Homo sapiens: one gene and its partners. The protein of the gene in region 4 purifies or fractionates together with the protein of the main gene of each other region. This does not show direct contact. Each region holds a gene or a part of one and is shown on either strand. Other genes may lie near its edges. The genes, in order: CCNYL1, UBR3, BTBD1 and CIRSR.

Region 1 (9,112 bases), about 33 Mb from region 4:
TATGTTTGAAGTTTTTCCACATCTTGAAAAGATGACGTGACAATTTTAAGCTATTTGGAAAAATAAAATCATTTGTGCACAAAATGACAGGCAGAGACTTTCACAGCTGCCTCTACCTAAAGCTCCTTTTTTTTTTTTTCCGAGAGAAGAGTCTCACTCTTTCGCCCAGGCTGGAGTGCTGTGGTGCAATCTTGGCTCACTGCAACCTCCACCTCCCGGGTTCAAGTGATTCTCCTGCCTCAGCCTCCCAACTAGCTGGGACTACAGGCACGCATCACCATGCCCGGCTAATTTTTGTATTTTTAGTAGGGACTGGGTTTCACCATGCTGGCCAGGCTGGTCTCAAACTCCTGACCTTGTGATCTGCCCCCCTCGGCCTCCCAAAGTTCTGGGATTACAGGCGTGAGCCACCACACCCAGCCTCTACCTAAAGCTTCTAAAAGGATTCATGACTACTTCCTTTCAAAAAGAAAGCAAATATACTACCATTTGAATCTAAAAAATAACTAATGTTTACAGAAGAAGCCATATTATGAATCAGTACCTATGTCATGATAAAGTTTAATTAGGAATTTTCAATGAAGTCCAGGAAAATTAAGTACCAAAATCAAAGAGGAGCAGGCTTCACACACACACCTCCCCCGCCCCAAATCAAGATGTGCTACTATGTATTTAAATATAAGAAAACCAAGATGTGCTACTGTGTAAATATAAGAAATATCCAAGGCGGCTGGGCATGGTGGCTCATGCCTGTAATCCCAATACTTTGGGAGGCTGAGGCTGGCAGATCATGAGGTCAGGAGTTCGAGACCAGCCTGACCAACCCAGTGAAACCCCATCTCTACTAAAAATACAAAAAAATCAGCCAGGCGTGATGGCGTGCACCTCTAGTCCCAGCTACTCGGGAGGCTGAAGCAGAAGAATCGCTTGAACCCAGGAGGCAGAGGTTGCAGTGAACCAAGATCACACCACTGCCCCCCAGCCTGGTCAACAGAGCAAGACTACATCTCAAAAAAAAAAAAAAAAATCCAAGGCAACTAGGATAACAGAAATGATAAGATATAGAGAAAAAAGCCAAATAAGCCCAAGTAACAAGCTGGCACTCCCTCAACTCAGGGGTTTTAGGGTGGGCATGTGACTTACAGCTGGCCAATCAATTACATTTCTCTTGGGACTTCCCAAGAACCAAAGGAGAAAGGCAGGGCTGTACTCTAGCACTGCTAGCCAGCCAGGAGCTGCCACCGAGGCTGAGGCAGGAGAATTGCTTGAGCTCAGGAGGCAGAGGTTGCAGTGAGCCGAGATGGCGCCACTGCACTCCAGCCTGGCAACAGAGCAAGACTCTGTCTCAAAACAAAAAAAAAAAAAACAAAAAACTCCTAAGAATGTTTGAAACTAGAAGAAATAGTTTTTGATATCATGGTTAGGGGTTATGTATAAAATTGTATTTTAAGACCCACCAGTTTTGTATTATCAATTTAAATTGCAACTTAATTCGAAAGCATGATAGTATGATGGGGGGCAAGTAAGACAAAAAAAAATTAAACTCAGGTCTTAATATAAACACCCCCCTCAGGGGAAGAAATCTGTAAGATCCACTGACATTGAACACTGCTTCTCCTTGAATCTATCAGCCATCTCAATTTCACAGATGTTAATTAAAAATGTAAAAATATGGAACTTAGAATAAATGAAATGCATTATTACTAAAGGCTAAAAGTGTTAAAATTATGCAATTGTAAACTGTAAAGAAATTATTTTTCTTGTCAAAATATTAAAGGGAGAGGGCAGCAACCAAGAAAGTAACTGACAGAAGCAGCATATTTCAGAGAAAGAGATTGAGTTCAACATATTGATTTCAATATATCCCAATTAAACAGGAGACATTGGCAGTTTCTGGGCCAACTGCTGGGCATCTGTTTATTTAAAGGCTTACTGCATTTACTGACCTGCTCTACCATACTGCACACTGTATTAGTCTTACGGTCCATAACACAAACATTTCAAACCTCTCAACTATGATGTAAACGCTGAGATTTTATCTAAGTTCACACGTTCCACCCATCAGGTAAGTCTTACCTGATGGGTCTTGAGCTGCCCTGCCTCATCTGAGGTCACACAGTACCAGCCAAGCTCCAGTCTCATGCTCACTCATGCCTTGCTTTTGCTTTCCTAGCTTCTGACAATCCTAAATCTGGTTTCCGAAACACTGCTCTACCTCCTTCTATGTCAGTGTTCAGTCTTGCTTTAACTTACCTTCACGCCTCAATCTATGTTTTAGTGATCGTGACTGAGCTGTGACATTTCATATGCTATAGTATACCTTTCTCCCTTTGTGTATTTCTTAATAGCACTTAACTCCTTTTTTAGACTTTTAAGAGTATTTCTGGGTGGAGTGCAGTGACTCACACCTGTAATCCCAGCACTCTGGGAGGCTGAGGCAGAAGGATCACTTGAGAACAGTTCAAGACCAGCCTGGGCAACATAACATAGTGAGACCCCCATCTCTACAAAAATTTTTTAAAAGATTAGTTGGGTGTGGAGGCACATGCCTGTAGTTCCAGCTATTTGGGAGGCTGAAGTGGCAGGATAACTTGAGCCCAGGGATTTGAGGTTACAGTGAGCTCTAATGGCACTACTGTGCTCCAGCCTGGGCGACAGGCAGAGTTGTGACCCTGTCTCATACAGAGAAAAGAAAAAAAAAAAAAAAGTCTGGGTTACAAGTACCTCCATTTCATTTTTCATTATCCAATGTTATTATTTTAACTCTAAAGCTTAATTAACTGAAAAAAAGGTGGAAAAAAGGCAGTATCCAAAGAAGCCCATGAGTCATTCTATAAATTCTAATCCTATATGCCATATATCTGAAATTTACATTCTTGATCTACCAAGCCTTTTTTTTTTTTTTTTTTTTTTGAGACGGAGTCTCACTCTACCACCCAGGCTGGAGTGCAGTGGCATGATCTCGGCTCACTGCAACCTCTGCCTCCTGAGTTGAAGCGATTTTTCTGCTTCAGCCTCCCAGGCAGCTGGGACTACAGGCATGTGCCACCACACCCAACTAATTTTTGTATTTTTATTAGAGATGGGGTTTCACCATGTTGGCCAGGATGGTCTCCATCTCCTGACCTCGTGATCCACCCACCTCAGCCTCCCAAAGTGCTGTAGTACAGGCATGAGCCACCACCACACCTGACCATACCAAGTCTTATCTTTTTAAACCTTGGAAAACTCTTAGTCCCAGCTACTTGGGAGGCTGAGGCAAGAGGATCACTTGAGCCCAGGAAGTGGAGGCTGCAGTGAGCTATGATCACACCACTGCACTCCAGCCTCGGCAACAGAGAAAGACCATCTCAAAAACAAAAAACAAATTAAAAAACCTTGGCAAACTCAATTTACACCTCTCAAAGCCTGTCTTCTCATATGTAAAACAAGTATAATTCTTATACTACCTAACTCAAAATATAGTGAGAATAAAATGAAATGCAAGAGCAATTGCTATAAGCCGGGCGCAGTAGCTCACACCTGTAATCCCAGCATTTTGGGAGGCTGAGGTGGGCAGATCACCTGAGGTCAGGAATTCAAGACCAGCCTGGCCAAGATGGCGAAACCCCTTCTCTACTAAAAATATAAAAATTAGCTGGGCGTGGTGGCACATGCCTGTAGTCCCAGCTACTCAGGAGGCTGAGGCATTAGAACTGCTGGAACCCAGGAGGTGGAGGTTGCAGTGAGCTGAGCTCGTGCCACTGTACTCCAGCCTGGGCAACAGAACTAGACTCCATCTCAAAAAAAAAAAAAAAAGCAATTGCTATATACCACATAATGCACAATAAATTATAAAACAAAGTTTTCACAAATTAAAAGCAAAAGTGAACAGTTAGCATTTATTGGAAAGCCCATACCAAAATAACATCTTCAGCAAATATGCACTTTGGCTACCTCTGAAATTAAGGGAAAAACAGTCACACACCACCACCAAGAATTCCTTTCAGTGTTGTTGTTTTAAATAAGCAAATACATATTATTTCATACATTACTGTACATTCTCCTCCTTGTTTTTTTTCATGTAACATATCCTGGATATCTGGGTATCACTCCATAGCAGTAAAGAGAGTTTTTTTTTTTTTTAACAGCTCCATAATTCTCCTCTGTGTGGATATAACAGTTTATTTTACCAATTTCTTACTAGACATATTATTTCCAATATTTAGCTATTGAAAATAATGCAACAAAACCTTATGCACATGTTATTTCATATTTATGGGGTATGCCTTCAGGATAAATTCCTTGAAGTAGGATTTCTGGATTAAATGCATTTGCAATGTTTGAGATTATGCCAAATTCCTCTTCAGGGAGTCAAACCACCTTACATTTTAACCAGCAATACACGAATGCAACTCTTCGCAGCCACACCAAAGAATGTATTGTCAAGTTTTTGGATCTTCTCCCAACAGAAGAGAAATCACAGCACAGTTTTCGTTTGTATTTCTCTTAAGTGTGAAGCTGTGTTTAAGGATCATCTGCATTTATTTTTCTGTGACTTGTCTATTCATCACTTTGCTACCTACTTTTACAGCTAGTCTGATCTTTTTTTTTTTTTGAGACAGTCTCACTGTCACCCAGGCTGGAGGGCAGTGGAGCAATCACAGCTCAATGCAGCCTTGACTTCCTGGGCTCAGGAGATTCTCCTGCCTCAGCTTCTTGAGTAGCTGGGACTATGGGTGTGTGCCACCACACCTGGCTAATTTACTTTTTGTAGAGGCAGGGTCTCAGCACGTTGTCCAGGCTAGTCCCAGCCCACTCCTGGGCTCAAGCAATCCTCCTGCCTCTGCTTCCCAAACTGCTGGGATTATAGGCATGAGCCACCGTCTGATCTTTTTCTTAAACAATTAAAAATATTGGCCGGGCATGGTGGCTCACACCTGTAATCCCAGCACCTTGGGAGGCCAGGGTGGGTGGATCACGAGGTTGGGAGATCGAGACCATCCTGGCTAACACGGAGAAACCCCATCTCTATTAAAAATACAAAAAATGAGCCGGGTGTGGTGGCACGTGCTTGTAGCCCCAGCTACTCGGGAGGCTGAGGCAGGAGAATCGCTTGAACCCAGGAGGCGGAGGTTGCAGTGAGCCAAGATTGAGCCACTGTACTTCAACCTGGGCGACACAGTGAAGATTCCATCTCAAAAAAAAAAAAAAAGAATTAAAAATATTTCCCAGGCTATAATCCTCCAATGGTTTCCTATCACAACTAAAGTCTATATTCTTTGCCAAGGCCCACTATACACACATGGCCTTAACCCACCATAGTCCTGGCATCCTTTTCACTCTTCCGCAGCCACCCTGTGTCTTTCTGTCCTTGGCCAAAAACAAGTTTGCTCCCATTCAAGGAACTCCAAAGTAACTGTCTGTGTGGACCCCTGGCTCTCACCAACCATCCTCACAAGGCTCCCTTCTCACTTTAGGACTGCTCACAGGTCACGTAAGGAGAGCAGCCATCTTTCATCCCCACAACCCCCATGTAACTGTCCTCCTCCCCAATCCATGACCCTATTTTACTTTTCTCCCTAGCACCTCACCACCTAACATTCTTGATTATTCATGTATTATCTATCCCTAGCTCCCTCCAGAATGTAAGGATCAGAGTTAGGATGAGGTTCTGTCTTGTATACCACTGTCTGCCCTAAATCTGGAACACAGCCTGGCCACCTAAAGGTACTCAATAAACATCTGTTTCAGCACACCCAAAACTAGTCAAGTTTCTCCCAGTTTTCCCACATCTTTTAATATTTCTTCTAACATTCTCTCTTGATTTGTCATCTAATCAAATCTTTTAAAGTGGTAAGCATCAAATCTTTTAAAGTGGTAGCTATTCAGAATTAAAGATGCAAGATAGGCTACCAAGAAACAAAAAATATTAAATGATGAATTCTAAAGTCCAGGGAAAAGTCAATGCTAACTCCAATTTGACATAAGAACTTTTTTTTTTTTTTTTTTTGAGATGGAGTCTCGCTCCGTCACCCAGGCTGGAGTGCAGTGGCGTGATCTCGGCTCACTGCAATCTCTGCCTCCTGGGTTCACACCATTCTCCTGCCTCAGCCTCCCGAGTAGCTGGGACTACAGGCGCCCGCCACCACGCCCGGCTAATTTTTTGTATTTTTCGTAGAGACGGGGTTTCACCGTGTTAGCCAGGATGGTCTCGATCTCCTGACCTCGTGATCCACCCGCCTCGGCCTCCCAAAGTGCTGGGATTACAGGCGTGAGCCACCACACCTGGCCCATAAGAACATTTAATACTAAAATATCTTAACTACAAAATGACTCAACCCATAGATTTAACTGAATTCTACAGGGAGGTACAAGGCATCAGTCATCAAAATATGTTTTTATCGGTACCCTTGAAATCAAATGTAATGAGACTGTGTATGATGTTACTAGAAAAGATGCCCAATCATAAAGGATAGGTAAATAAATGATACTCCAACCATCTGATGGTACATTAAGCAGTTACTAGAAGGCATGCGATAGAGCAGGGTGTCCTGGCATGGAAAGATATCTTGGAGCACTCTCTGGATGTCAAGCAGTGATTCAGGAATTTATGACATTATTTCACTGCTGTAAGTTATGAAGCAGCTCATATAGAATGATCTCATTTTTCTAAAATAAAATGTTATATTCATATGCATACCATAATCAATGACTTTTCTGTATTCTCTATGTCTTTTACATCAAACATATTATTCAAAAAAGCAAAAAAAAAAAAAAAAGAGAGGGCTTAAAATAGCTACTGGAAAGAGGAAAGATCTGTTGCTCAGAGGTTTTTCCACATTACATTGCCAATTCTTTCCCTACCTTCACCCATCAGTGGAAAAGAATAGAAAGAGTCACTTCAGAGAGCGCCTTTAGCCAGCAAATTAGCAAAGCTCCTAACGTCAGAACATAAAATGCTCCATGAAAAGTCAAGAGTACTAATAAAATCGGACAATAAGATCTTAGTATCTTATTTTGTGTTACTGATACTACCGTCAGTTATGTTAGACATACCGTTAAATAAAGGCAAGGTAGTAGAAAATACTTTGAGTCTATCTGAAATGTTTACTAGGTTCTTAGGAGCATCTCTTAGCTTGACGAGACCAGGCGTGGTGGCTCACACCTGTAATCCCAGCACTTTGGGAGGTTGAGACAGGTGGATCACCTGAGGTCAGGAGTTCCAGACCAGCCTGGCCAACATGGTGAAACCATCTCTACTAAAAACACAAAAAATTAGCTGGGCGTGGTGGCACACACCTGTAATCCCAGCTACTCAGGAGGCTGAAGCAGGAGAACTGCTTGAACTCTGGGCGCAGAGGTTACAGTGAGCCGAGATCGCGCCATTCCACTCCAGCCTGAGCAACAAGAGCGAAACTCCATCTCAAAAAAAAAAAAAAGGCCAGGCGCGGTGGCTCACACCTATGATCCCAGCACTTTGGGAGGCCAAGGCAGCTGGATCGCTTGAGGTCAGGAGTTCGAGACCAGCCTGGCCAACATACTGAAACCCTGTCTCTACTAAAAATACAAAAATTAGCTGGGCATGGTGGCATATGCCTGTAATCCCAACTACTTGGGAGGCTGAGGCAGGAGAATCACTTGAACACGGGAGGAAGAGGTTGCACTGAACCAAGTTTGTGCCATTGCACTCCAGCCTAGGCAAGAGTGAAGCTCTGTCAAAAAAAAAAAAAAAAAAAAAAGAAATAGCTTGAAGAACAAAGCCGAGCGTCATTTATGTATGATTTTTGTCTAAGTAACAAAAATAATTCTTCATTGTAGAAAAGCTAAATTTTTTGTTTGTTTGTTTGTTTTGAGACAGAGTCTTGCTCCACTGTCCAGGCTAGAGTGCAGTGGCACGATCTCAGCTCACTGCAACCTCTGCCTCCTGGGTTCAAGTGATTCTCCTGCCTTAGCCTCCTGAGTAGCTGGGATTACAGATGCCCGCCACCACACCCAGCTAATTTTTGTATTTTTAGTAGAGACGGGGTTTCACCATGTTGGCCAGGCTGCTCTCGAACTCCTGACCTCGTGATCCGCCCACCTCAGCCTCCCGAAGTGCTGGGATTACAGGCGTGAGCCACCATGCCCAGCCAAATGTTTTACATCTCAGTAAGAATTTCTGTTTCCAGGGAGACTGATATAAAATTGTCTGAAATAAAGATATTAAAAGCAAACTTTCAATGTGTCTATACTTTATATTTGGTGTTCTGGCCATGTTTCTATGGAAACTTATGAATAATAGGCAAATGCCGAAATGGAGATTTCTATTATCACTTTATTGAATGCCACAAAAATAAATTTTGAGACAAATTGAAATAAAAATGTAACTGTCATACTAACATACAATGGTAAATTCTGTGCTTACAAATTCTCTTTTTCCAACTTTTCTGATTTAGCACTCTTTATCATCATCCCATGCTTAATGCCTGGTACCTTACCTTCCCTCTTGCCAGCTTCTAATATTCCTCTGTCCAGTGCATTCTCAGCTTCAATTCACAGTTACCAGAACAAACTCTTTAAAATTTATCAACCTGTTTATTTGATGGGTATATTTAGGCCATTTTGTTACCTCTACTTTTATTCTTATCCACTGAAATGAATGTATAGACATAAGATGGAGCCAGGCAAGATGGCACACGCCCGTGGTCCCAGCTATTCAGGAGGCTGAGGTGGGAGGACTGCTTGAGCCCAGGCCAGGAGTTCGAGGCCAGCCTGGTCAACACAGTGAGACTCTTTCTCTTAAAAAAAAAAAAAAAAAAAAAAAAAAGAGATGTAAGTGTTGCCTCTGAATCGTGTAAAATAAACTTTGAAAGGAACTAATCAAGACCGAAGTAAGTTCTCAAAAACAGGACTATTTTATGGGTAAAATACATGATGCATTCTGGATTTTTAAAAGTTTTTTAAGAACTGAACTTGGTATATCTCACCTCCATGTCAGTCTGAGAACTGAGAACCTTAGTTCTGCTCAGTGGCTGTCTTACATAGTCATTCTACATACCTAACTCTTTATTTCTTCATTAGCAACACGGGGAATATAAACAGGCCTTATTTTGGAAGGGCTAAATTACATGTACATGAAAGTATGTATTTT
Region 2 (9,112 bases), 4.3 Mb from region 4:
TAATGCAAGGCCATGATTTAATGTCCATTTTTATACTCTTGTAATGTCATGTCATTACAAAAATTTTTTAGAACATGGATCTGACATATTTTATCATTAGATTTGTTTAGTTTATTTTTACATGTAAAAATGTAATTTTATATAACAAGCCATGGAAGTCCAAAGTACCAGGGATTGCTTGATAGCACTATATATTAAATAATCATTCAATTACTGAATCATTTAGGAAAAAAAATCTTTGTAGCAATATGTCACATGCTTTTCAGTAATCTTCCTTCTCATAGAGTGGGTTTTAGCTCAATCATTCCCATTTTTACTGATTTTTAAACCCTGCAAACATAAATTGTTTTTCACAGCAGTTTCTAAGAAGAATGCAGAAGCGTGGCTCATTCATGAGGGTCATCACCACTGCGCCTTTTTTTTCCTTTTAGGAAACCGAGCAGAAATAGTAGTGATTACACTGCACAAATACAATATAGCTGAACCTCTTGAGCTGAAAGGAAGTTCCAAAATTTATGGTTCATTTCTGGGGAAGTCTGAGCATTTCTAATACAATCATATAAACAAAACCTTGTTTGGTAATAAAAGGTGGGCATGCACGGAATCAACATCTGCCCAGTGTATGTTCTTAAACCTCTTGATTTCATAGTAAGATTTGTTATTACCTCTAGTAATTCATCCAACTGAAATGGCAAATTTTGATTTTTAAGGACCCCCCAACCACACATATGCCCCCCAAAATGTACTGTATTATATTAACAGCAGCTATCTACTTATTTTACAGCTATTTCAATTATTTACCTGGGGAGAAGATTTATGAAATTCCTGAGAATGAATTCAGTTTTCAGCAAAGCTTTAAACTTTTAACAGATTCCTCACAATAAGAAAAAATTTTAAAGTTCTACTATTAGACCAACTTTTACTATACAGTATTTCACATAAATCATGTTTTACATTTTTTTCTAATTACATACAGAAAAATTCTCCAATCAACACAAGAATGGCAGAGGAAAAAAGATGCATTATGCTTGGCAGATGCAAATTAAAACACACAGACAGAAAGAAGCAGTAAAATGTCAAATAAATCACACCCACTCTAAGTATCAATGAATAGCTGATACGCATTGTTGGGAGAATCATTTCTGAATGAGTTTGTGAACAAGTTGTGCTTCTTATTAATTGTGCACTTAAAAAATGACCACTAAAGAATAATTTAACTTGTTATTAATGTTCTCCAGATATTAAAAAAAAAAAATTATACCATTAACGTGATTACCAAGCACCTAATTTTGGAAAGGCTTCATAATGTATGTTTTCTTTTTCTCCCTCAGCAAAAGTGTTAATCCCCCAAATTAAGTTAAAGCTTATTGTTGAAAAATAAATTCGTAGCGAAAATGATGATACGATGCAATGCTGAGGTGGAGAGTCACAGCCCATTGTAATGTGGACCCCATCTTTTATTGATGTGATCAAAAGTATGAGAAATCCACTGTTGCTCAAGAACTTTGTATCTTTCCTTACAAATGTAGAGAGGTTTGCCTCGCCTAGAACAAAAAGAAAAAAAAAGTATTAATATCATACACGGAAGATTTCACATGCATTTCTTTCTTCTTTTTTTTCTGAGACAGTCTCTCGCAGTGCAACCTCCGCCTCCTGGGTTCAAGCAATTCTCCTGTCTCAGCCTCTCGAGTAGCTGGGATTACAGGTGCTCACCACCATGCCTGCCTCCTTTTTTTATTTTTTTATTTTTTATTTACTTATTTCTTTTTTGAGACGGAGTCCCACTCTGTCACCCAGGCTGGAGTGCAGTGGCACGATCTTGGCTCACTGCAAGCTCCGCCTCCCGAGTTCATGCCATTCTCCTGCCTCAGCCTCTAGAGTAGCTGGGACTATAGGGGCCCGCCACCACACCCGGCTAATTTTTTGTATTTTTAGTAGAGACGGGGTTTCACCATATTGGCCAGCCTGGTCTCGAACTCCTGACCTCAAGTGATCCACCCACCTCGGCCTCCCAAAGTGCTGGGATTACAGGCGTGAGCCACCACACCTACCACATTTCTTTTTTTACTAGATTCTTTTTTGAGACAGTCTTTCTCTGTTGCCCAGGTTGGTGTGCAGTGGCACGATCACAGCTCACTGCAGCCGCCACCTGCTGGGCTCAAGCGATCCTTCCACCTCCTCCCGAGTTGCTGGGACCACAGGTGTATGACCACCACACCTGGCTTATTTATTTTTATTTTTTTGTAGAGATGAGGTCTCACTATGTTGTCCAGGCTGGTCTCAAACTCCTGGGCTCAAGCAATCCTGCTTCAGCCTCCCAAAGTGCTGAGATTACAGGTGTGAGCCACTGGGCCTGGCCAACGGATTCTTTGTGGCAAAAACCTCACATGGTAATTTGGTGTATTTCATGTTTCCTCAACGTATTGATAGGGACAATAGCTCAAAAACTAGAAATAGCTCTAAATTAATGACTGTCAGAATTTCTTAATATTAAAAAAATTGTAATTACAAAGCCAGGAATAGCATATTGGTTTTCACTGACCAAATTTCAATAAAACACCTGGATATATCCATGAACATCTAACCTAAGATCCCGGTCTTCCTCTCCATGAGCATCCAAATACACGGAACCCCAGAGGCAGAAGCGGTGACCTCGAATGATGATAATTACCGATGCATTGATCAAAAGGAAAATACCTGTTCCTGCACCACAGTTCTGAGAGTGCTAAAAAATTAAAAATATATTAATGAACTTCATAATCAAATAGGCTTTATAATAAAATCAAGAATATATTAATGCCTTCTAAATAATACAGTGATTTAAAAATAGTAAGATTTCATTTAAGTTAAACTTATAACTCCATTCCTAACACTTTATTATTAATACATTAGGAGGTATTTGGGTAAGGAATATCTAGTAAAGCAATTAAGAGCCAACCTAATTCAGAGTCTAGTATCTTCAACAGCACAGATGACTTCTGTTTCACAGCACATTCCAAAGTACATACCATTAAAGGGATAGTAGATGAAAGGAGAACTAGAATTGTACTTAAGGAAGGATTTACTCACTTAAAGCCTCAAAGACTTTCTTTTTTTACTCTTCTACTGGATTAAAAAACACACACAATCCCTATATGTATTATATACTTAATTCAAAGAGTAGTTAATATGAAGAGATGGCTTGACCATATTTTGTGATATGAGATCTGTGTTTTCATAAATTTTGTATTATCTACTATTGCTTACCAGTACACATTCACAGTAACTTTGTTGCTTGCAGCAAAGTCCTTTCAGGCATACAAAAGTACCACACACAAGGCAAACAGCAGGATCTTTAGGAACCTTGGTGCAGACACTACAGGTTTTTCTGTGGTAGTACTGAAAAATGGTGTTATAATTCTCAGGCAACTGTAGTAGGTGTGGTAATTTCCATTTTGACTCTTGGATAAGCAAGGCCTAAAACATTATCCAAAAATATTCATTAGTTTTATGTATTTAAGTCACTAACACAATATATTTTTTAAATGTATTTTTACAGAAAGAAAAATCTGCCTCCAAGAATGTGGCTTATTTTCTTTATTAACACTCCTCTCATTTCCATCTTATACATGACTAAAATAGTAGTTCAACAGTTACCATTATCTAATGTATTATAGTTTCCAATTACAGTATGATTTAATTTTTTAGATTAAGCACCTTAAAACATTTAAACTTGTTATTACTTTAAAAGAAAAACACCATCTCTAAGCATGCAGGGAAAATACATCTAATTGTATTTGACTTTAAACATGCATAGTGCAAAGGTTTTTAAAAGTTACGTATTTTTTAAAACCAAGTTTTGATCATTCTCAAACAATTCTTTAGCTTTTTCTTTAGGACAGATCATGGTTATAACTCATTTTTTCTACTTTAATACTTTATAATGTAGAATTGCTTTCCTAGAGTATGTACAATTCATTGCACCTCAAGCTGTTAAGATCTTTTATATCCATAAGTGCTGGGCTACAATTCTTTTCATAAATGTCTTGCTATAAGAATAAAAAAATTGTCAAATTAGTTAAATTTCCCTGAAGGGTATGCTTTATTAACTATTTGCAGCTGTATAAAAATACTGGCAGCAGCACTAAATTTTTCTAGATGCTACTCCATTCACACTTAAAAAAGATAAAATGTAGAGTGAGTCTATTATCTTAAGAAACTGTAAGTAATAGTCAATTTAAATGGAGATCATCTCACATTACCTACATGCAGCCATAATCCACCTAAATCAGTGGAGTAACTAAGCTAGCTTGTTCCTCATCAACAAGTTCATGGATTAAGTGTCCATGGAAGCAATGATAAGAACAGTATACAATACATCATTTGCCAATACTCAGCACCCAACCCTGGACTCCAAGGATGGCATTCTGTAATGAGTTGATTACAGTGGAACCCTTCCATTAAAGGGAAGGGATAACAATTTGTCCTCACTGAACTTGACACTTATTATAGGTTAGGCTGCATGTTATCCAGTAGCCCATAGCACATTACCTCCAATAATTTCCCTCATGAAGAGAGATGTAAGGCAACAGGTGGATGTCCATGGAATTCACTGATCTTAACATATATTCAATCATCTGAAAAAAGCTGTGGTATTTTAAATCATGAACTACAAAACTGATTTTTTCAGTGCCACAAAAATTATGAAATTCATGAAATTTACAAACTTTTAGATGGCACCAGCTGGAAGAAATCACCTACAGAATGTGTATGCTCTAAACAGCAACCAGTATATATGGGTGACCTTTTTCACAATTGGAATGCATATGTATGGGAAACAAGAGGTGGAAAGTATTTAACAGCTGTAACACCTCTCATGATTACACCTAAAATTCGGTCTTGCCTTTCCTGTTGCGGCCTGTGTGGAGTTCACTCGTGGGTCTCTGAGACCCAAAAATTGAGAGCATTTTCGCACCCCAGGGGCTGCGCCTGTGCCATGCCACAGATCAAATATATTGAATTACACTGTAAATGCCATGGATATCATTTGGATTACCATGAGAAAAAGGGAAAGAAGGAAAGTTGAGAGGCTTATGAACATTCAAAGAAGTCAAAGAAAATGATTGGTCTGAAGGCTAAGCTTTATCTTAAACAGCACCATGCTGAGAAAATACAAATGAAAAAGACCATCAAGATGCATGAAAAGAGAAACACCAGACAAAAGAAAGACTCCACAGGGAGCAGTACCTGCCTATCTGCTGGACAGAGAGGGACAACCTCAAGCTAACGTACTTCCCAGTATGATTAAGCCGAAATGAAAAGAGAAAGCAGGAAAATGGAAAGTCCCTCTGTCTAAATGTAACTTGCCCAGGGAGATACAGAAGTGTTAAGAGTTATTTGAACAGAGCCAGGTGCAGTGGCTCATGCCTGTAATCCCAGAACTTTGGGAGGCCAAGGTAGGCAGATCATTTGAGGTCAGGAGTTCAAGACCAGCCTGGGCAACATGGTGAAACCCTGTCTTTACTAAAAATACAAAAATTAGCTGGGCATAGTGGCAGGCGCCTGTAATCCCAGCTACTCAGGAGGCTGAGGCAGGAAAATCACTTGAACCCAGGAGGCTGAGGTTGCAGTAAGCCAAGATCGCTCTACTGCACTCAAGCCTGGGCAACAGAGTGAGACTCTGTCTCAAAGTTATTCCAACAGGAAAGAGAAAGACGCAGGCATAGAGGAGGATGGTTACTAAAGTCTGCTTTGTTGGAGATGGCTTTACAAGAAAACTACTTATCTATGGAAGATTCATCAGGCCAATGGGCTTGCGTTTCAAGAAAGCCCATGTAACACATCCTGAACTGAAAGCCACCTTTTGCCTAACAATACTTGGTGTAAAGAAGAGTCCCTCATTCCCAATGTATATAACTTTGGATGTTATTACCAAAGGTACTGTTACTGAGGTGAATGTGAGTTGGGCCTTGTGACACAAGGAGGCAAGGTTATTTGGGGAAAATAGGCTGTGGTTACCAACAATCCTGAAAATGATGGATGTATAAATGCAGTCTTACTGGTCTGACAGCACTTTCATAGATATTTATTGAAGACTACACACCAACTGAAAAAACTGCCATTACTGTGATGTTTCTGAATACTACCAAACAGCCTTACATGTCTGCAATCAAGAGATTTATTAAATTGTAAACATTAAAATGGAAAAAAAAATTCGGTCTTAAATTTCTGCTTCACTGCTATTCCGGACTCTTCTGCGGATTTACAAGCTATGTACTGTCTAACCTCTAGTACGGTTTATAACATCACAAGGGTGGCTTATCGCATTGCCTGGAGGGATTGACCATGACTATCAAGAAGAATAAAAATATTGCCATACAATTGGTAGAGCAATATTTTGGAACTTAAAAACCCCTACCACCACCCCTACCATAGACCAAGCTTGAAAGGCAGAAATTTAACACAGAATGATTACAGCCTTATAGAAACAAAGACAGGACCAATCACCAGAAGCTCAGCCCTTTCAGAATAAAGTTTGGTATCACATCCTTGCTCAAACAAATCCAATCATCCGTTGAGGTGTGCTGGATCACGGATGGTAAAAGAAGAAAGTCATATATATTTGACTGTATATTAGCTGCAGCTTTATGACTACTTGCAAATCTTGCTTACTGTATCATATATCTTTGCAACATTTTCATTCTCTTACTATTGAATTCAGGGTGAGCAGGTACTAATTAAAATTTTCCAGGCCATCTGGGTGTGAGTACAAATGACAGGAACAATGGACATCTCTCAGAGCTACTGGATGCAGAGAGGCCTGATGATGTAAGGACTATATGTGACATCAGGTTGCTTATTTGGGAAAGTCACAGATGCATTTGCAGTCATAAGTAAAATGGTTACATCATTTTCAACAGCAGAAGTGAAACTGTGAATGAGAAGAAGGGTGTGTATGAGCCAGGCAGGTAAGATGTGAAAGTAGTGGGCCACTAGTTTGTTTTTTAAATCCTCCTAGCATCCTTTGCTGCTTTCTTATATTAATAACATTATAAGTTCTTTTAGAAAATAACCCCTTTTCTTGCTCCGTACAGTTCTGATGGGGCTGTCCCCAACACAAGATCCTGCCCCACCACTGGGGTATATGTATTACAACAGTTAGGCCAACCAGATTCTCTCTCCCAGGAATCTGAACCTTGAGCATGCAAATTAAAGGAAGGAAAATGGTTGAGGCTTAGTTATCTGGTGGCAGCACTTCAGAGAAAACAGAGCAGAGATATTTGTGGTTTCTCTTCTTCCCAAGCGATGACAGTTAAGCTCTTCAATTCTGCAGGTTACCAAGTATGCTTCCAATGAATCCTGTTTTTTTTTTTTTTTCTGTCATAGTTTGCTTTGGTTTTCCTTATTTTAAATCAGAACTGGATTTTGTTGTTCCCAAACAAAGAATCTTAACTGATAAAAAAATTCAGAAGTAGTAATTCACAGACAGTTTTTCAAGGGTAGTACTGTTGGACTATACAGCTCCTGTCACCATTTACCCTGCTAAGTCTCGCTATACAGATTTAACATTCCTGAGAAAGAGAATCTGGTTGACCTAGGGTCAGGATCAGGGTTAGGAACACAAGAGTGGAGCAGGGACACAAGGGGGAATACAGGTCAAATGGTGGTGTACTTACATAACTGGCAAAAATTCTGCATTAGCATAAATTAATAAATTAATCAAATGTCTACTACACTGCCTCTACAATAATTATCACCTAATTATATGAAAAGATTAAATATTTTAAAATGAAAAATTCTTATTTTCCATCAGCATACATACAATAATCATTCATCTAAAATGTAGGCTTGATTTTAACCTATGGCTCATATGAAGACAAACTCTGGGTGTGCTCATCACTTTTTTCCCTGCCTTGGTTCTACAATTATACCCCTCTTACTCCATGTCATCCTGCATAGGTTTTCAGACATCAAAGTATGATGTCAAATTATTGCTATATGCTCTGTGAATAAAGAAATTACTAGACAGGAAGATATTTGTATATGTAATATGCAAGATTCAATTAACTTGAATTTCCCTTTTTTTTTAAAAAAAGGGTATAAAATGAGATAGCATCTTTTTAAGGATTTCAGCAAAAAATGGAAAAGAACAAAAGCAGAGACATTTATAACTTATGCTTATCTTTTATTATTCACTCCAATGTTTTAAAAATGAAACCTAGTCTGACACATTCATCTGAAATATTAATTTTTTATTGTCCCTTTGATGTTCAAAATTAAAATTCTCACTTTCCCTGAAACTTGGCTCCCCTTTAATACGTTCTATTTCTGCCAAAGACACCACCCCACAACTTAATTGTTCTACAAATATTTATTAGGTGACTAGTATATATGAGGCACTTTCTAGAAACCGGGGATAAATAAGGAACAATTTCTGCTTCGTGGAGCCCCCATTCAGATACATTAAAGAAACAAATGTAATGAACATGGCAACTGTTAGAGAAAGTCACAAAAGTACAGCCTTATAGAACAACAGAAAAAAAAGGGATTAGGATGTAAGGAAGATGGACTATCAGACAAATCTTCATGGAGGAAGTCACATTTATCTTAGCAAAGGTAAATGTTACTTAGCAAACAGTGATTATTAATTCAACAGAAGGGTAGGAAGGTTGCTTTAGTAACAGCAATAAGTAATGTTCTAGAAGTTTAAAAATGTATAGCATACTTATGAAACATTCTTTTGTGATTTGAGCAAGGTAATGGCAGAGGGAGGCTATACGATGAGATGGAAAGGCAAGCAAGATGGTGAAGATCCTTGAGTGCCATGCAAGGAGTCCATACCTTCTTCCATAGGCAATGGGGCATCAGCAATGGTGTTTAAGCAGCCGCATGTTCCTACTGTAGCTGTATATACTAGACACTACTCTCCTAATGATTGGAGTTCAAGATCTTAAAGTCATGTACATCTGGTCACCAAGTCCTATATTTTTCTCAAATGTCTCTTACATTAGTTACTTTCCAAGTTTTACAATCAGAAAAATAGTCTAGATTTTTTTCACCACCTAAATATTTTCTGGCTTCCCTTTATCCTTACTTTAATTTATCCACTAAAAAGACACCAGAATTACTCCCC
Region 3 (9,112 bases), on a different chromosome or scaffold from region 4:
ATCACTTATCAATTAAAAAATGTATAAAGCATATTATCTATGAATTTTATTTCAGGTTAGTAAAGTGGGAATTACAAAATATTTATTAAAAAAAGAGAGAACTGGGTTTGATAGAGTTGTGAACTACTAATGTACATAATGCCATTAGCAAATAATCAATCAGAATTATAATAACACTGCTTTAAACAGCAAGGATATCTCTATCTTGAGGTTTCAATAGTTTATCATGTCAAACAAGTATTCTTCTAGGCCTAATCTAGTAAGAATTATATCTGGAAGGAAGGTGAAATTTTATCAAAAGCCTTTCTGACATCTATTGAAATTAAATTGTTTTTCTTCTTTGATCTGTTGTGAGAATTATACTAATACATTTCCTAACACTGAGCCATTCTTTCAATCTCCAAATAAACTCTGTTTGGTCATACAGTGTTATTCTTCGAAGGTACAGATTCAATATCCTAATGTTTTACACAAAATTTCTTCTTTATATTGAGATTGATCTAGAATTTTTTTTGTCTAGTCTGATGCCTATATAAGGGTTATGCTTCCTTCAATAATTAACCAAGTAGTACTTTATTCTTTTAATGCTCAAGGAAACTAACTGTTCCTTGAGGATTTGACAAAACTCACCTGTAAAAACCACCTTGTGAAGGGACAGTTCTTTGATAACTTTTAATTCCTTCCATGGTAATTGGTCTATTCAGGCTTTTCTTCTTCAGTCAATTTTGATAATTTATATTTGCCTATAAAATGATCCATTCCATCAACATGTTCAATTTATTAGCACAGAATAAACCCAGAATTAAAATAAAAATGTCAGCATATAATTATATTCCCATTTTTGCTTCTAAATGTGAATGTTTATTACCTTTGCCAGAGGTTTATTTATTTTATTGGTCTTTTAAAGGAACCAGCTTATGGATTTATGAATTCTACTATTTCTAATTCATTAATTTCTACATTTATCTATTTACTTTCTCTTTTCTTATAGTTCTTTTGCTATTTGTTTTCTAGCTACTTGGGCTGAATGCTTAAATCATTTATTTCTACTCTATTTACTACAAGTAGTTAATTATTACTTTTTCTTTGTGTGCAGCTTTGGCCTCATCCCATAATTTTTGCATATAGTTATTGTGAATTATTATTAAATAGTCTACAAGTACATTTTTAATTTCCATGTTAACTTAAGATTTATAATAGTCCCACATCCAACCAGATTTTTCTGTTTTAACAAACTTGTTAATTTCCAGTTTTATACTGAAGTGCTATTAAATAAATGAAAATCCAAAAGTCATGTTTTGTGAAAACCGGCACTGATTCTATTTTGACATTCAACCTAAAGAAACACAGTACAGCAAAGACAATTTCTTCAACAGGATTATACGCATGCATTTTTCAAGATTCTTGATTTTTTTCTCAAGGCTTTTATAAATGTATACTGAGATACTTTCCCTGCAACATCTATGCAAAGAAAAAACTCACACTAAACATAGTAAGGTTACATTTATTAATTGTAGCCCTAAGCCTGTAAAAATAACGTTTGATCAATTAAGGTCTAGAACTCAGCCCACTGGCAGTGGTGATCCAAACAAAAATCATGTAACAGCTGGGCGTGGTGGCTCACCCCTGTAACCCCAGCACTTTGGAAGGCTGAAGCAGGTGGATCACTTGAGGTCAGTAGTTCGAGACCAGCCTGGACAACATGGTGAAACCCCGTCTCTACTAAAAATCCAAAAAGATTAGCTGGGCGTGGTGATGCATGCCTTACAGGTTACTCAGGAGGCTGAGGTGGGAGGATCGCTTGAACCCAGAAGGCGGAGGTTGCAGTGTGAGAGATCCCACCACTGCACTCCAGCCTGAGTGACAGAGCGACTCCATCTTGGGGAAAAACAAAAAAATCACGTAACAGAAGGTCCAACCCAATCCTTTCTTACTCTATTTTTTTCTTAAGAAGTCACCCTCACTCATAAATCAGTGAGGAGGGCAGGATGCCTCAGTGACTTCTTGACTCCTATATTAACTTAACTTAAAAGTGTATTAAATGAAGTATAAAATGAAATGTTGGTTAATTATCTCCCATAATATATAAAAAAGGCCAAATGGTAACTGCTACCCCCACTCTACCCCCGCATCCCCAATATAACAGATACCTGATTCGATCACTCGTCCCACTGTAACCCCAGCGGCTTTCTACTTGCTGGAATCTATTGATGCAGCATTCCTTTCCCCTGAGACAGCATCTTGGTCGGTCAATGTATTCAACTCGGGGTTTAGGGTTGACAGTAAAATGAAGAAAGAGGTTTACCACTTCACGATCTGACAAAATTCCAGATTGAGCAGGACCTGTGGAAATAAAAACATAAGCCTAAAAAAAGGAATTTGATTTCAATTCCTAACTTTGGAATTCACTTAACGTAAATTCAAATCTAGAGGACGTAACATAAAAATAGGGGAAAAAAATCTTAGCATATATAATTTTTGCATATATTTTAAGGTTTCAATAAATCCATTTGAGGTTAAACACATTAATTAAAATGTTAAAAGCATTAATTAGTCAAAACTTAGATCCAGGAATAAATGCTATTCCTCATGGATGCCAGGAATCCTCCTTTCTCACCTTATACAAAAATCAACTCAAGATGGATCAAAGACTTAAATCTAAGAAACCATAAAAATTCTAGAAGATAGCATCAAAAAAACTCTTCAAGACATTGGCTTAGGTAAAGAATTCATGACTAAGAACCCAAAAGCAAATGCAACAAAAACAAAAACAAATGAATGAGACCTAATTAAACTAAAAAGCTTCTGCATAGCAAAATAAATAATCAGCAGAGCAAACAGACAACCCACAGAGTGGGAGAAAATATTTGCAAACTATGCATCCAACAAAGGACTAATATCCAGAATCTACAACTCAAATCAGCAAGAAAAAAAAAACAAATAATCCCAGCACAAAGTGGGCAAAGGACATGAAGAGACAATTCTCAAAGGAAGCTATACATACGTGTGCATGTGTCTTTATAGCAGCATGATTTATAATCCTTTGGGTATATACTCAGTAATGGGACGGCTGGGTCAAATGGTATTTCTAGTTCTAGATCCTTGAGGAATCGCCACACTATCTTCCACAATGGTTGAACTAGTTTACAGCCCCACCAACAGTGTAAAAGTGTTCCTATTTCTCCACATCCTCTCCAGCATCTGTTGTTTTCTGACTTTTTAATGATCACCATTCTAACTGGTGTGAGACGGTATCTCATTGTGGTTTTGATTTGCATTTTGCTGATGGCCAGTGATGATGAGCACTTTTTCATGTGTCTGTTGGCTGCATAAATGTCTTCTTTTGAGAAGTGTCTGTTCATATCCTTCGCCCAGCAGACTTGGAACCAACCCAAATGTCCATCAATGATAGACTGGATTAAGAAAATGTGGTACATATACACCATGGAATACTATGCAGCCATAAAAAATGATGAGTTCGTGTCCTTTATAGGGACATGGATGGAGGTGGAGACCATCATTCTCAGTAAACTATCACAAGGACAAAATACCAAACACCGCATGTTCTCACTCATAGGTGCGAACTGAACAGTGAGAACACTTGGACACAGGAAGGGGAACATCACATACCGGGGCCTGCTGTGGGGCAGCGGGAGGGGGAAGGGATAGCATTAGGAGATATACCTAATGTAAATGACAAGTTAATGGGTGTAGCATACTAACATGGCACACGTATACGTATGTAACAAACCTGCACGTTGTGCACATGTACCCTAGAACTTAAAGTATAATTAAAAAAAAAAAGAAGATATACAAGCGGCCAATACACATAAGAAAAAATGCTCATCACTGATTATCATACATAGGCAAATTAAAACCACAATAAGGTACCACCTTACTCCTGCAAGAATGGCCATAATTAAAAAATAAAAAAAGAAAAATAGATGTTGGCGTGAATATGGTGAAAAGGGAACTCTTTTACACTGCTGGTGGGAATGTAAACTAGTACAACCACTAAGGAAAACAGTATGGAGATTCCTTAAAGAACTAAAAAGGACTGGGGGTGGTGGCTCATGCCTGTAATCCCAGCACTTTGGGAGGCCGAGGCAGGCAGATCCCAAGGTCAGGAGTTTGAAACCAGCCTGACCAACATGGTGAAACCCCATCTCTAACAAAAATACAAAAATTAGTTGGGTGCAGTGATGTGCGCCTGTAGTCCCAGCTACTCGGGAGGCTGAGGCAGGAGAATCACTGGAACCTGCGAGGCAGAAGTTACAGTGAGCCGAGATCGCACTACTGCACTCCAGCCTGGGCAACACAGCGAGACTCTGTCTCCAAAAAAAAAAAAGAACTAAAATTAGAACTACCATTTGATCCAGCAATTCCACCACTGGATACCTACCCAAAGGAAAATAAGTCATTACATGAAAAAGATACTTGCACGTACATGTTTATAGCAGCACTACCAACTGCAAAAATATGGAGCCAACCTAAATGCCCATCAACCAACAACTGGATGAAGAAAATGTGGTATACATACACCATGGAATACTACTCAGCCATAAAATGGAACGAAACAAAGGCTTTTGCAGCAACTTGGATGAACTTGGAGGCCATTATTCTAAGTGAAGTAACTCAGGAATGGAAAACCAAATACCATATGGTCTTACTTATAAGTGGGAGCTAAGAAACTATGAGGAGGCAAAGGCCTAAGAATGATATAATGAACTTTGGGGACTTGGGGGGAATGGTAGGAGGGAGGTGAGCGATAAAAGCCTACATGTTTGGTACCATTCCCCAACATGGTGAAACCCCATCTCTACTAAAAACACAAAATTTAGCCAAGGGCGGTGGTGGGTGCCTGTGATCCTAGCTACTAAGGAGGCTGAGGCAGGAGAATCACTTGAACCTGGAAGGTGGAGGTTGCACTGAGATGAAATTGTGCCACTGCACTCCAGGCTGGGTGACAGTCTTACTCTGTCTCAAAAAAAAAAAAAAAAAAACAGAATAGAATTGCATTCAAATGATAGATGGGAATAACTGTCAACCTTGAGCTTTCTACCCAGAAAAATATCCTTCAAAAATGAAGGCAAGCTGGGCTCAGCAGTGTGCCCCTCTAGTCCCAGCTACTCAGGAGGCTGGGGTGGGAGGATTGTTTGAGGCCAGAATTTTGAAGCTGTGAATAGCCACTGCACTCCAGCCAGGGAAACACAGCAGGGCCCCATCTCTTTTTTTAAAAAAAATGGTAAGATAAAGATGTTTTTAGACAAAAGAAAAAAAGAGTTGAGAGAATCTGGTTAGTATCCTACCTGTTTTAAAAGAAATATTGAAGAGAATTCTTCAAGCTAACAGAAATGTGCCCAGATAGAAGCACACATCTGGTCATACAGAAAAAAATGAAGATAACTGAAAGGGCAAATATATAGGCAAATCAAAAGGATTATTGACTTTAAAAATAATGTTTTGTGGGCTTTATAACATATGAAACATTAAAATACATGAAATAGTAGCACCAAAGGCTAGAGAAGGTTAAATATAGCAAAAGTATCAATAATGCCTTTATATTGTGTAGAAAATTTTAATTTAAAAATTTTAATTTTATTTATTTATTTAGAGACAGGGTCTCACTGTTGCCCAGGTATGGAGTGCAGTGGTGTGATCACGGCTAACTGCAGCCTTGAACTCCTGGGCTCAAGTGATCCCCACCTCAGCCCCCCAGGTAGCTGGGACTACAGGTGTGTACCACCACTCCAGGCTAATTTTTAAATTTTTTTTTGTAAAGACAGGGTTTCGCCATTTTGCCGAGGCTGGTCTTGAACTCGACTCAAACAATCTACCTGCCTCAGCCTCCCAAAGTGCTGGGACTAAAGGCATGAGCCACTGTGCCCCATCTAAAAAATTTAATTTTTAAGATTTAATTTAAAAATCAATAAGGATATATTCTTGTAATAACAAGGGCAACCCACTAAAATAATAATAAAAGAATCTTTAATACGGGAGGCTGAGGTGGGAGGATAACCTGAGCCCAGGAGGTTGACGCTGGAGTAAGCTGAGATCATGCCACTGCATTCCAGCCTGGGTGACAGAGGAGACACTGTCTACACCAAAAAAAAAAAAAAAAAGAAAAAGAAAAAGAAAGTTTAATAGACTATTAATCATATTAAATATAAAGTGAACCAAATATTCCAAATAAAAGGCAAAGTCTGTCAGACTGAATTTTTTAAAAATGAAGCTTACAAGAGACATGGTCAAAATAATGTAAGGCTAAAAGTAAAAGGATGAGAAAGATATAGAATTTAAAAAACCTTGAGAAACTATACCAATATCAGACAAAGACTTTAAAACAAGAAGTTTAGGCCAGGCGTGGTGGCTCATGCCAGAATGTTGGGTGACTGAGGCAAGCTGATCATTTGAGGCCAGGAGTTCGAGACTAGCCTGGCCAACATGGCAAAACCCCATCTCTACTAAAAATACAAAATTTAGCAGGGTGTGGTGGTGCACACATGTAGTCCCAGCTACTAAGGAGGCTGAGGCATGAGAATTGCCTGAACCCAGAAGGTGGACGTTGCAGTGAGCCAAGATTGTGCCACTGAACTCCGGCCTGGGTGACAGAGGGAGACTGTCTCAAAAAATAAAATAAAAAACAAAAACCCACAATAAGTTTAGATTTAAGATGAGATAGACTGTAAAGATAAAGAAGCAAATTCAATATAAAAAAAAATCCTAAATTTGAAGGTACCTAAAATAAAGAAGAAAATAAAGAAGAAAACTGATGGAACCAAAAGGAAACACATTCTCAATCATACCCTGAGATTTAAATCTACTTCTTTTAGTAACTGATAGAACAAAAAGCAAATCAATAGATAGATACATAGAAAATTTGAAGATCATTAGTATATATTCCTTTCATAGATATAGTATTCAATCTGTTGAACAGATACAGGACTATTCAGGTTTTTCTGCACATAACAAAGAAGAATACATTCTTCTCAAGTATACATGGATACTTATTACAACTACCGTATGGGCCAGGCACGGTGGCTCATGCCTGTAATCCTAGCATTTTGGGAGGCCATGATGGGTGGATCACCTGAGGTCAGGAGTTTGAGACCAGTCTGGCCAACATGGTGAAACCCTGTCTCTACTAAAAATATAAAAATTAGCCGAGCGTGGCACCGCATGCCTGTAATCCCAGCTACCGGGGAGGCTGAGGCAGGAGAATCGTTGGACCCCAGGAGGCGGAGGTTACAGTGAGCCAAGATCATGCCACTGCACTCCAGCCTGGGTGACAGAGTGAGACATTGTCTCAAAAATAAATAAAACAAAATAATAAAAAATAAATAAAACTACCATATGCTGGGCCAAAGCAGATATCAACAAATTTCAAAGCATTGAAATGATATAGAATATATTTTCTGACTATACTGGAATTAAGACAGAAATCAGCAAGAGCAAGATAAGAAGAAATCTCAAATATTTGGAAATTAAGTTATCTATAATTTATGAGTCAAAGAAAAAAAAAGCAAAAATTAAAAATTCTTAATCGAATGCTAATGAAAATACACATATTAAAAACTGTGGGGGGGAAGGATGCTGAGAGAAAAAATATACACTTAAATATATGCATTCAAAAAGAATATAGGTTGACCTTCTAAGTATCTCAAAAAGTCACAAAGACTAATAAAATAAATAACCCCAGCAAATTAAAAGCAAAGAAAGGAAAGAAAGTAATAAAGAAAAAGGCAGAAAGTAATGAAATGGAAAACATACTGTAATAGAGAAAATTAATAAAGCTAGAAGTTGGTTCCAGGAGAAAATTAATAATACAAACTCTTGAACACTGGGGGAAAAAAAGGAAATATTTCTAACTTTTGTATGAGGACAATTTTGACAATTTCATTGCAAGAAAAAAAAATATATATAGACTAATTTCTCTCATTCAGTAGTCATAAAAATACATTAAAAATTCAGCAAATTAAATCCAGTAATATATAAAAAGGATAATGCATAACAACCAAGTCTGATTTACGTAAGGAATCCAAAATAGGTTTAAATTGGGAAATCAATTAATGTAGTTCACTATATTCACAGAATAAGGGGGAAAACTGTATCATTACCAAAAAAAAAAAAAAAAAAGAATAATAGCTTGATTCCTCTAAAAGAAAGCAAGAAAGGAAAAAAAAAAAAAAGATGTGACAAGTAGAAAACAAATTGCAAGATGGTAAACATAAACCCAAATATATCTGTAATTACATTAAGTGCAAGTGAACCAAAACAGTTCAGATAAAAGACAAAGTCTGTCAGACTGGATTAAAAAATTATTGGCATATTCAACATCATTAATCATCCGTGATATGAAATTTAAAACCAAAATGAAATACGTCCTCACATCCACACAAATGGCTAGAACTACAAAAACTGACAATACCAAGTATTGGAGAGGATGTGGGCAACCAAAACAAACTCTTATGTCTCTTCACTTTGTTGATGAGTGTAAACTGTTACAACCACTTTAAGGGACTGTTTGGCAGGATGGCAGGATCTACTAAAGCCGACCATATGCACACTCCATGACTTAGCAATTCCACTCGTATATATCCAACAGAAATGTTTACGTATGTATACCAAATCACACGTACAAGAATGGCCTCAATGGTCCCCAAACAGAAATAATCCATATATCCAACAACAGTAAAATGGATAAATCATGGCACAGTTGTATAACAGAATATTATAAAGCAATGAAAAAGAATGAACTACTGCCACACTCAACCACATGGATGAATCTAACAGGCGTAATGTTAAGAGAAAGAAGCCACACAAAAATGAATACACACCATATATATGATTTCCTTTATATAAAGTTTACATATGGACACAACTAATTTATAGAAGACAGAAAGTAGTCACCTTTCAGAGGGAGATTAGTGACTTAGAGGGTCATGACAAAGGCTTCTGGGGTACTAGTACAGTAGGATAAATTGGTTAAATAAGTATGTTCACTTTATTTGTTAATTTTACTATATGGATGTTAAACTTTAATTTCAAAAGTTTATTTAAAAAAAACCCAAACACTGATTCTTATCAGCAAAAACAAAAACAATCTTGGAGA
Region 4 (5,303 bases):
CCTATAATCCCAGCACTTTGGGAGGTTGAGGCAGGCAGATTGCTTGAATTCAGGAGTTCAAGACCAGCCTGAGCAACATAGCAAGATCTCATCTGCATTAAAAAAGTGGACCACGGTTTGTGAGTCAAATGAAAAAAGTGTAAGAAATAACGTTTTAAATTCATTTTTAATTTTAGGATGCATTTCAGCATTTCTCTTCATGAACACTGTATTGCTTCAGAAACCCTTTAAGGTAGTAAGTATTGCATAGGTTTTGACATTATAAAAATTATAAAGTCTAAAAAGGCATAAGGTAGAAAATAATCACTGCAACACTGATGAACTCAAGGTGTAAATTAGCAGTGTTTACCAATTTCAAATGCATGCTTTTTTTTAAGTGAAGAAGGGATCTTTGAGGTGCGCTGTAAGTTATTTAACAATACTGTGGAAGGAATTCAAGTTCCTCCCCGCCCCACCCCCACCCTGCGTCTTAAAAATCTAAATAATCAAGGGTTGTTTACCTCTTCACTTAAGTTTTTCTTAGAGGACACTTGTTTTGTGTGTGTGCACAGACAAGTCAAAGACATAATCAGATGATGTGGAGTGGTTTTACTTCTTTCAAATGTTACTCCTACAGAATTTATGAAATTGTGACTGCCAACTATCAAAACCATCTAATCAGTATTTGTTTTGTATTAAATAGCAGATGGTTAAAAAATATAGAACACTGATAAAAAAACTTGTGTCCAAGATGTGAAGTTATGTTTTTTGGAACTGCATGTTACTTGTGATTTGTACCAGTTCTTTCTGTAGTTTTCCTTTACCATATCCTTTGAAACACAAGGGAAAATTTGCAGCTAAATTTAAATATGCCTTATATACCTATACTGGTGAAATATCAAAACAGTTTGCATTGTTTCATTTGAAAATCTACCCCCTGCCCCCCGCCACGGACCACTGGTACGATCAACCAGGTATGAAGTAAAATCTTTAATAGTTGTATGCCAGTAATAGAAGGGCCAATTGTGGAAGGCAGAATAATAGTCCCTCATAGATGTACACATCCTAACCCCTGGAACCTGTGAATATGTTACATTACAAAGAAAAGGGGAATTAAAGTTGCAGATAGAATTAACATTGATATTAAAATTGGGAGATTATTGCATGATTCTTCAGGTGGGCCTGATGTAATCACAAGGTCCTTAAAATTGGAAGAGGGATGCAGAATGGCAAAGTGTCAGAATGATTAGATTTGAGAAGGACTTGACTCCTCTCTCTTAGCTTTGAAAACAGAGGAGGGGGGGCCAGGAGCCAAGAAATGCAGGCAGCATCTAGAAGCTGGAACAGGCAAGCAAACATATTTTCCCCTTGAGCCTCTAGAAGAAACACAATTCTATTGACATCTTGACTTTAGCCCATGTCAAACTTCTGACTTCTAGAACTGTTAATACAGCTGGACTGTTTTTTGTTTTGTTTTGTTTTGAGATGGAGTCTTGCTCTGTCACCCAGGCTGGAGTGCAGTGGCGTGATCTTGGCTCACTGCAACCTCCGCTCCTGGGTTCAAGCAATTCTCCCACCTCAGCCTCCTGAGTAGCTGGGACTACAGGTGCGCACCACCATGCCTGGCTTTTTTTTTTTTTTTTTTTTTTGAGACGGAGTCTCACTCTGTCGCCCATGCTGGAGTGCAGTGGCGTAATCTTGGCTCACTGCAACCTCCACCTCCCAGGTTCAAGCGTTTCTCCTGCCTCAGCCTCCCGAATAGCTAGAACTACACTGCATGCCACCATGCCCAGCTAATTTTTTGTATTTTTAGTAGACACGGGGTTTCACCATGTTGGCTAGGCTGGTCTCGAAACTCCTGACCTCAGGTGATCCGCCCGCCTGGGCCTCCCAAAGTGCTGTGATTACAGGCGTAAAGCCACCGTGCCTGGCCCCGTTGGACTGTTTTAAGTTTGAGGTAATTTGTATACCTGCACAGAAAACTAATATTATCCAAATGTAAACAGCTTATTCTATAGAACAAAACACCTAAAGGGGGCTTAAAAGTCTTAAAGATTTATTAATCCTTAATTTATACTAATGAATTTGAATAATTATTACAATTCACTTCAAGCAAATTCAAATCCTAGAATAACAAATTTGAATTGAAAAAAGTAAATTATACCCATTCAATGTACTGTCATTCTTTTAATGATGTTTCAGAACAAAGAAAATGTCACAGAGTTATATGCGGTTTTTATCTGGTATGGGGAACAAGAAACAGTTACCAACAGAAAATATTTCCACAGCCCCAAAATAGCTTACTTACAAATATTTGCAAAATTCATTCTTATAGTACTCATGTAGTTTTGTACTTGAATTGACAGTCTAGAGATGAAAAATTAAAATTGAGCTTTTTTATTAGAAAGACAACAGTACATAATTTACCCCTTGCTAAAGGTATTCAATAAAAAAGTGGAGATATTTTTATTCCCAGGTAATTGTCACATACAGTCTTTCTTCTCTACTTCTGCTTCATTCTCTTTGTGTCACTTTAGTATGTGTACCTCCTGGGTGCTCTCTGTACATTTTTTCTCCTCTATACAAGTCTGTGCCATGGCTTCTGCTGTCATTTCTTCTGCTTTGCTCTTCACCAGGATTTCGCTGTGCCCGTTTCCTTGTCTCCCTTTGCTTGTAACTACCAGGACTTCTGCTCCGGCTTCTCCGGCTCCTTTCCTCCCTGCCGTGGCTTCTGCTGCTCCCCTCCTTTCTTTCAGAGCCTCTCTTCTCTGGGCTATGTTTATGGGTTCTGGACTTTTTGTCAGAATCAGAATGGCTCCATTTGCTGTCCTCCCTAGAACTCTCGTGTTTTAAGAACCTGGGCTTTTCCTTGGCTTTTTCCCGGTTATGGTGACTGCTAGAAAGTTCTTCATGAAGCTTTCTCTTCTTAGACTTGTCCTTCTCTTCAGAATCACTGTTGTTATGCCCTGAACACTTGTTTTTCTTTCTTTTCTTCCTTTGTATTTTTTTTTCTTTATTGTTACTCTCACTCTCACTACTGCTTTCTGAAGTCTCAGTAGAGGAAGAGGAGGAGGAGGAGGAAGATGAGGAAGAAGAGGACTTATGTTTTTTGTGTTTACTTCTGCTCTTCTGAAACTTTTTCTTTTTTCTATCTTTTTTCTTTTTTTTCTTCTCCAGTCGATCTAATTTCCTGTAATTGGGAAATAAACAGTAACAGACTGTGTGAAAAACAGTTATTTCATCAACTGTAAGTTATGAACAAACAATATATTTTCTTAGAAGTTATTAAAAATAGTATCCATGGCAGAGCGCGCTGGCTCATACCTGTAATCCCAGCACTTTGGGAGGCCACGGCGGGCGGATCACAAGGTCAGGAGTTCGAGACCAGCCTGACCAACATGGTGAAACCCCATCTCTAGTAAAAATACAAAAATTAGCTGGGCATGGTGGCACCTGCCTGTAATCCCAGCTACTCAGGAGGCTGAGGCAGAAGAATCGCTTGAACCCGGGAGGCGGAGGTTGCAGTGAGTCAAAATCATGCCACTGCACTCCAGCTTGGGCAAAAGAGTGAGACTCTGTCTTAAAAAAAAAAAAAAAAAAAAAAAGAACTGGTATCCATATATGAACGCATTGTTTACTAAATGACAACTCATTTTCTTCCTTTAAAATTATTCAAAGCGTGAATACATTAAATTAAAAAATTAAATGCATCAAGCCAATTTTCTGACTATACTTCAATAGTAATGACTACTTTTTTGTTAAATTCTTACTGAGTTGAAATTATATAGCACTCTAAAGGGTCATCCTAAAGAAAGCCTGTGAAAGGTGTGTAACATCAGTTGGAACTACTAAAAAAGCAAATATATAGCTATAATCAGATGAAAAATTAATTTTATGTACTATTTTATAGTATATAAATATTAATCAACGTTATCAAAATTCAAGAGAATATTCTCCAGAAATTCTGAGTAAGAGTACACATTAAACTTCTGAAATATTGGTTTTATAAAATAATATAGTTAATACTTGTTTTCAACAATTGTTTAGTTTTATAAATAGGACAATCCTATTAAAACATTCTGAATTTCTAGAGTACTTCACATTCTTGGAGGAGTAACTTGTTTATATGGTATGTTTGAGTTACTCTGAAAATAAGTCTCTAGGTTCTGTCTAGCCATTCTCAAAACTCTACATACTGAAAGCATCATGAGCTCCCTCTATTGGACCCAGCAGACATTTCTTGGATTCTTTTAATTCAGAGGTAGTCTGTTTAACAAAATTCACGTTTACCTTAAATTTAAGCATTCTTTCTGCATTCTCATAAAATTTTACAAAACATTTTAAAAATGGCCAAAAATGTTTCCTAAGAACAAATTGTGTGCGAAGATACACACAAATCTATTTTGAAAAGTAAAAGCTATAAATAAGTCTAATTCTAAATTAAACATTCTGAAAAGTGCAATCGTTTTGTGGTACAATCTGAGTATACAATCTTACACTCATTTCCATGTTACTGAAAAGACAGACAAAATTGTATTAGCTATGGGTGAAGAATAATCAATAAATGTGATGCATGGTATAAGGACCTTCATGAGCTCTTAGGATCAGAGTTGAATACGATACTGAGATGAATACTAAGGAAAAAATAAATCTATTAAATATATACTTCTAAATTACCTGAGAAGTTTCTGTTTTTGTTTGGTTGTTAGTGACTTTAAAAATTCAACTTCTGGATCTTCTTCACCCTCACTTGCAACATACTCCTGAGTCAACAAAGATATCATTAAATTGCTAGATTTCAACACAAGGTAGTTAGTAGATAAAAAAGAAAACATTTATAAATAAGTTTTGTATCAGGGACACACTGTAGATGAATATGATATTTTGGATTGGGAAGTGGGAGAGAATTAAAAAATTTTTTTGTAGTCTCCCTGCCGAAGTGGATCATACAGCACTAAGAGGTTAACATGACTGCTTTGCCAGCATTAGGAAACTTTTCCAGGAAAAGGATGATAGACACACACAGATAAAATGTTTAGAGCATGACTTCCATTCTCTATCTCTTGAATGTTAACTCTTGCCAGTTTAAATACTTTATTTTTAATTTAATGAAATATAAAAAAGAAGATTATGAGTTTTACAGGAATGTCAAAATATCCACAATTTTAGCTTTTATTATAATTTCAACAGCACATTATCAAATATATAATAATATAGCCCTTCAAACTCAATCATTTTCTGGATCTATGTATAGTTTAATAAAATAAATAAGTTTAAAATATTTTCTACAATTTTTAGGAGTTTTTACATACTTCTAACCATTG

What was found.
Region 1: the proteins of CIRSR (region 4) and CCNYL1 purify together in Homo sapiens (affinity purification with mass spectrometry; 2 studies listed by BioGRID and IntAct, with this or other methods). This does not show direct contact.
Region 2: the proteins of CIRSR (region 4) and UBR3 purify together in Homo sapiens (affinity purification with mass spectrometry; 2 studies listed by BioGRID and IntAct, with this or other methods). This does not show direct contact.
Region 3: the proteins of CIRSR (region 4) and BTBD1 purify together in Homo sapiens (affinity purification with mass spectrometry; 2 studies listed by BioGRID and IntAct, with this or other methods). This does not show direct contact.

Annotation. Positions count from the first base shown.
Region 1 is NC_000002.12:207,713,989-207,723,100, reverse strand, and holds part of CCNYL1 (cyclin-Y-like protein 1), read right to left. Parts: intron 1-9,112. UniProt on the Homo sapiens protein: Key regulator of Wnt signaling implicated in various biological processes including male fertility, embryonic neurogenesis and cortex development. Activates the cyclin-dependent kinase CDK16, and promotes sperm maturation.
Region 2 is NC_000002.12:170,074,158-170,083,269, reverse strand, and holds part of UBR3 (E3 ubiquitin-protein ligase UBR3), read right to left. Parts: intron 5,803-9,112; exon of another isoform or gene 5,667-5,802; intron 5,369-5,666; exon of another isoform or gene 4,883-5,368; intron 3,457-4,882; coding exon 3,247-3,456; intron 2,726-3,246; coding exon 2,586-2,725; intron 1,545-2,585; coding exon 1,427-1,544; 3' UTR 1-1,426. UniProt on the Homo sapiens protein: E3 ubiquitin-protein ligase which is a component of the N-end rule pathway. Does not bind to proteins bearing specific N-terminal residues that are destabilizing according to the N-end rule, leading to their ubiquitination and subsequent degradation.
Region 3 is NC_000015.10:83,027,986-83,037,097, forward strand, and holds part of BTBD1 (BTB/POZ domain-containing protein 1), read right to left. Parts: intron 2,344-9,112; coding exon 2,151-2,343; intron 744-2,150; exon of another isoform or gene 631-743; intron 1-630.
Region 4 is NC_000002.12:174,346,004-174,351,306, forward strand, and holds the end of CIRSR (corepressor interacting with RBPJ 1), read right to left. Parts: intron 4,743-5,303; coding exon 4,657-4,742; intron 3,170-4,656; coding exon 2,494-3,169; 3' UTR 2,019-2,493; downstream 1-2,018. UniProt on the Homo sapiens protein: May modulate splice site selection during alternative splicing of pre-mRNAs. Regulates transcription and acts as corepressor for RBPJ. Recruits RBPJ to the Sin3-histone deacetylase complex (HDAC). Required for RBPJ-mediated repression of transcription.